Linked DNA regions of Homo sapiens: region 2 is linked to region 1. The links come from fine-mapping of genetic effects on gene expression. A gene starts in region 1. The other region holds a variant in brackets. All regions are shown on one strand. Distances are between the middles of the regions.

Evidence for each region. PIP is the estimated chance that this variant, and not a neighbour inherited with it, causes the effect.
Region 2: its variant is the best candidate, but not a certain one, in a credible set for the expression of SETD9 in NK cells (Gilchrist 2021, PIP 0.89).

The regions. Positions count from the first base shown.
Region 1 is chr5:56,907,938-56,910,825 of GRCh38, forward strand. SETD9 (SET domain containing 9) reads left to right here and starts at 1,659. Exons shown (of 6, transcript NM_153706.4): 1 at 1,659-1,806. The coding sequence starts at 1,709. RefSeq lists enhancers at 1,295-1,384, 2,175-2,224, 2,320-2,888 and silencers at 1,535-1,744, 1,925-2,134.
Region 2 is chr5:57,829,008-57,831,926 of GRCh38, forward strand. No RefSeq gene overlaps it. Among named protein-coding and RNA genes, the nearest start is that of LINC02225, 69 kb to the right of the region's middle. The variant T/C (reference allele first, on the strand shown) is at 1,327.

The DNA.
Region 1 (2,888 bases):
GAGAGAAAGCCTCTAGAGTTTGCTAACATTCTATATGATATGAACGAAATAGAGACATTGGTAGATACTCTTTCTCTTTATTTCTTTCAGAATAGAACAAATTAGTCCCGCAGCTACTGGCGATTGGCTGAATTTTTTTTTTTTTTGAGACGGGATCTCACTCTGTCACCCAGGCTGGAGTGCAGTGGCGGATCTCGGCTCCCTGCAACCTCCGTCTCTCAGGTTCAAGCGATTCTTCTGCCTCAGCCTCCTGAGTAGCTGGGACTACAGGCACGTGCCACCAACGCTCGGCTAATTTTTGTATTTGTTCTTTTTTAGTAAAGACGGGGTTTCGCCATGTTGGCCAGATTGGTCCCGAACTCCTGACCTCAGGGGATCCACCCGCCTCGGCCTCCCAAAGTGCTGGGATTACAGGCGTGAGCCACTGCGCCCGGCCTTGGCTGAGTTTTTATTAGATCTGAGCCGTTCAATTTCAATAGTTTAGGATCCAACCTCACTCTCAGGCAAAGAATAGAGGAAATGATACCAACGTATTTATCTGTCAATAAACACTTGGTGATTTGAATATGGTTAAGGGATTCCTGTAGTTTGCCCCCCTTAAAACTGAACTTTGTCCAAACCTGTTCTAAATATGTGTGTGCGTGTGCATGCATCTGGGTGTTGGGGAGGAGCGGTCGTAAAGTTCCTTTTAAATTTCACCTATGGGGGACTACTTCCCACCTCATCCTATGAAGTCAACATTAGCCTAAATACCAAAGCCAGATTAAGACACTACAAGAAAACTACGAAACAATATCTCTCACGAACACAGATGCAGAACTTCTAGACAAAACGTTTCCAAATTGAAGCGAAGACCATATTAAAAGGACAAAAGCACCTCAGTGGTTGCTTGGGGACTGGGGGAGGGGCTGGATTACTATCTTGGCTGTGGTGTCGAAAACCTATCAAATTGTTCACTTTAAATATGTGCAGTTTATTGTATCCCAACCATTCCTCAACAAAGCTGTTTTTCAGAAACATTTGTCCATGTAGTTTTGCCTTTGAATGGTTGGGTCAATGAAGAGAAAAACGAGTGAAAACAGGGAATCATGACACTTTGTTTTTTTACGTGTAAATATTCGCAAAACGCCCAAACTGGTAACTTTGGGAACACGGGTTCACGCAGAAGAAGGGCTGCTGTCTGGGGAGGACTGAAACTCGGGTTCCCGAAGTCGGGCTGCTCTGGGGCCACGGAGAGAAGGGGAGAGAACGTCGAGGAAGAGGCAGAGCTCAAGTGGACGGAGGATGGAACACAGAGCGCGGCCGGGACAAAGGGGCAGGCCAGACAGCCGTGACAGAGAAACTAGGCGGTCCGCTCCTGGGACGCGGTCTCGGGGGCGGGTTCGCCCCTGAGGCCCGGTGACCCTTCGCCCGCAACCAGGGCTAGCGCTTGTGTGCGCCCACGGAAGCACCCGAGCGACCGGAGAAAGAAAAAGTGGTCAAGGGGACCTCCTTCCAGCTCTACGCGCCTCTCATTCAGAGAGGTGAGGTCAGGAAAGGGGAAGGACGAAGCCCCAGAGCAACAGAAGTCAGGCGGTGCCAGGAACACTGAGAGCGGAGCCAGGGGAAGGCGGCCGAGCGCGGCCCCCTCTCCTCCCGGGCCGGGGCGGGCCCGAGGCCTCGATCCGCCTTCCCCGCGCCGTCCTGGTCACGGCCCCGCGGGGCAGCCATGCCTGGCCGTCTGCTGCGGGGCCTGTGGCAGCGATGGCGCCGTTACAAGTACCGCTTCGTTCCCTGGATCGCACTGAACCTAAGCCACAACCCGAGGTGAGAGGGCGGGACGGCAGAACGAGGGGCACCTGCCTTCGGTTCCCAGACGCCACCACGGCGGCGGGACGCAAAGCGGAGAGCCTGAGGCTGACTGCCGGCCTGAGATGGGCGGGCCCGGGTGGGCAGGGACTGAGGTGGGCGGGCCGGGTGGGCGGGGACTGAGGCCTCGGAGGGGTTTAAGGAACGCGGGCCAGAGGCGGGCGGGGCCGAGGTTGGTGGAGTCCGAGGCCCGCTGGAAGCCTGAAGTGGGCGGTGGCTTCAGGTGGGCGGGGCCTATGGCCTCTTTCCCAGTGTCCGCTGCGCTGCCGGGCCCGCGAGGCCGAGCTCGCCAGCCGGATGTGTCGCCTGTTCTTCCCTGTTGCGTTCGGCACTGACTGGGGAGCTTGTATCTGGGCAAAAATGGAAACTTTTTAAAAAGACTGCCCTTACCGCGTGAGAGTGCGTGGCTTTTTCTCCACCAGGGGTTAATTAGGTGCTTGAACTTCCTCAGAAAAGCCAAGCCAGGGTTTATTTTCATAGTTCATACAAGTACTTCACGTGGTTAAAGAAGCCCATCCCGGCTGTGAGAATAGCGTGCAGTAGCTCGCGCGTTAAGAACGGGCAGAACGCCACTCAAAAGCACGTCGGGATGGTGGGTTTCGGATTGGGGTGAGTCCCGCCGGCGTTATTAAGGGCGCACCAGTGATCAGCTCAACACCGTGCTCACCAAAGAGGCCGACCGGGCCTCCCTGAAGTCAGTGTCCGACAAATAGGGAAACAAAGCGGTTTCCGGAAGGTTGCATGCTAGGGAAACAGGAGATCAGTTGTATCATGACTCGGAACCGTGAGGCGGGAATTACAACCTTTTTGTTCAAGTAAAAATAATGCAGTTAGTACAAAAAGATAATGATTATGGAAATAAGAGGTGCAGTCATTGAAGACGTTAGTCGTCCTGGAGGGAGTGTCACAAAGTATACGATGTTGAATTTGTCTTTGAAACTACAAGGCCATTTTTAAAAAGCCATTGAATGTGAGGTCATTCATTCTCATTGTGATGACATTCAGCTTGGCTGTTGGGTGTAGTACGGGAAAGAGCTGAA
Region 2 (2,919 bases), 920 kb after region 1:
TCCTGGCCTGTACCAGGCTTTGAGGATATAAAAATTATGTTTTTTCCTCACAGCACTCACACTGTTAAATAATTAATCCACTGATTTCTAGACAAGTCTTTATGAAGCACCTACTAAAGGTAAGGCACTCTGCTCAGAGGTAAGGATGTATTAATGAACCAAACAGGCCTGGTTCCTCCCTTCATGGAGTATACAGTCCAGTGGGGAGCATAGACACTCATCAGATTATCAAGCAAGTGCATGTAGAATCATCACATGGAATCCAAACGCGCGATAAGAAGTATATGGTTCTATATAAGCACAAAAGTGTGGGATAGGATTTGGTCAAGAAAGTGAGAAAGGTGCTAATTATGTTAAAATCATAAACAGTGGGTAGATATGAGTAGGAGCATCTAGGAAAAAAGGAGAAAACAGCACATTCCCAGCAAAATAACCAGTACTGTGGATTGACTCGTGTCCTCCCAAAATATATATTCAAGTCCTAACCCCTAGTACCATGTGATCATACTTGGAAATAAGATCATTGCAGATGTAATTAGTTAAGATGAAGTCATACTGGAGTAGGATGAGCCCTTATTCCAATATGACTAGTGTCCTTATATGTAGAGGAGAAGACACAGATGGGGAAGGTTGCCTTATGAAGACTGAGCCAGAGACTGGAATTATGCTACCACAAGCCAAGGAACACCTGGGCTGCCACAGATCAGAAGAGACAAGGAAAGATCCTTTCCCAAAGACCCAGAGTATAGCCCTGCCATCACCTTGACTTTGGATTTCTAGCCTTTAATTCTGTGAGACGACACATTTGTATCATGTTAAGCCACCTAGTCTGTGGTTCTTTGTTACAACAGCCCTAGGAAACTAATACAACCAGCATCAGTAAAAGCGCCGTGGCAATAAAAAACATTTCAAATAGAAAGAACCAGAAGAAATCCAGGATAGCTGGACACTGTGTGGTAGCAGTAGGGTTGCTGGATAAAATACAAGATGGCTAGTTATATTTTAATTTCAGAAAACAACAAATACCCTTAGCATGTGAGTCCCATATTACATCTAGAAATCTGACAAAAATATTTGCTTATCTGAAATTTAAATTTAACTGGGCATTCTGTATTTTTATATGCAAAATCTTGCCACCCCAGAAAGAGGATACATGGTGAAAGTTGATGGCAAATAGGTATAGAGAAATGTCTATGCCTCTTTAGATTGTTAGATTGAAGTGGATTAAATTTGTGGGAAGTGAGAGAATGGTGACAGCAGGTATAGGCAAGCTTGCAGAAATTTAGCTGTGAAAGGTCTAAGGAGCTGAGGATAGGAATAGGAGAA[T/C]GAAGAGTTGAATGAGGCTGTTTTTGTTTTTTGAGTGGAAGAGGCACATGCATGGTTAAGAGCCAGATGACAGAATCTACCTGAGAATTTGATTATATAAAAGGCAATAAAGAAGGGATGTTAAATATTTATAGCTCATAGAAAAGTGATAAATGATGGGATACATACAAATGATGGTTTTAGATAGAAGAAGAGGCATGTCTTCCACTGCAACAAGAAGGCAGGAGGGCAGCAATGGTTCACTGTGGATTGTTTTGAGTATTTAATATTAGGGAAATATTTAATATTTGGGATTCTCATCAGATAATCACATACTCTCTGTTTCCCATATTCTGGGAAATTCTTAACTATGATTTAATGAATAATCCTGGATGAGGTTACATGACACGGTTTGGCTGTATCCCCAACCAATTCTCATCTTGAATTCCCACATGTTGTGGAGGGACCTGGTGGGAGTTAATTGAATCATGGCAGCAGATCTTTCCTGTGCTGTTCTCATGATAGCTGTTCTCATGAGATCTGATAGTATTGTAAGGGGGAGTTTCTCTGTACAAGCTCTCTCGCTCTCTCACTTTTTATTTTTTGCCTGCTGCCATCCATGTAAGATGTGACTTGTTCCTCCTTGCCTTCTGCCTTGACTGTGAGGCCTCCCCAGCCATGTGGAACTGTAAGTTCAATAAAACCTTTTATTTGTAAATTTCCCAGTTTCAAGTATGTCTTTATCAGCAGCGGGAAAACGGACTAATACAGTACAGCCATCCATAAAACACATTTAAGGTATACTTATAGAAGTTTTGTTATGGAATTCATACAAGTGTAAGTTTGAGTTAAAAATATTTTAATGAAATCCTGGAGACAGATTTATATTCTAAAGGCTGAGAACCCTTTAAACTAACAGGCAAGTTCATATGCTAAATACCAGAAGGAACAAAACTGTTTCAGAGGTTTGAAGGGAGAGGAGGTGTAACTAGTTATTGTGAATTGGATTGAGCAACCCAAAAGGATGTCAAGCAGTGTGAGTGGCCCACTTGAGTTTTAATCTCAACAATTTCACAATAATATAATTGCTACTTTTGTTTAATGAGAAAAATTTACATGAGGGCCATGGAGGAGGAAATAATTAGTGTAGGGTAGAAGTGAGGAGAGTCCAGACAGGTGTAAAAGAGAAAAAGCAATGGGGCTGATCTGGCCATGAGGAATGAGTAGGATTTTTCTGGTATAGAGAAGGTGGGAATGGAAATATCTTGCCAAGTGTACTGGAAAATGGAAGCAGGAAGAAAAAAAGGTCTATTATTTAGTTCTCCTTGTGTCTGTAATAAGCTTAAATTCTTAATTTAGGGGAGCAGAGAAGAGATAATAAAAGTTGCATCAATTTGGAGGAGGGACAAATCACTGAAGGCTGAGATAGTTGAAAAGGCTTCAGAGAAGACAAGTTGGACCTGAAAGGAAGAAAGGCAAAGCCGTCCTAAGTGGAGCTGTGGTGGAAGTGTGGCAGATGAAAAGACATGGTGCTTGGAAGGCCTGGTTTTTGTTCCCAGACTTCTTTTTAGATGCCTCAATTTTTTTTTAAATTAGATTTACATGTTTACACAT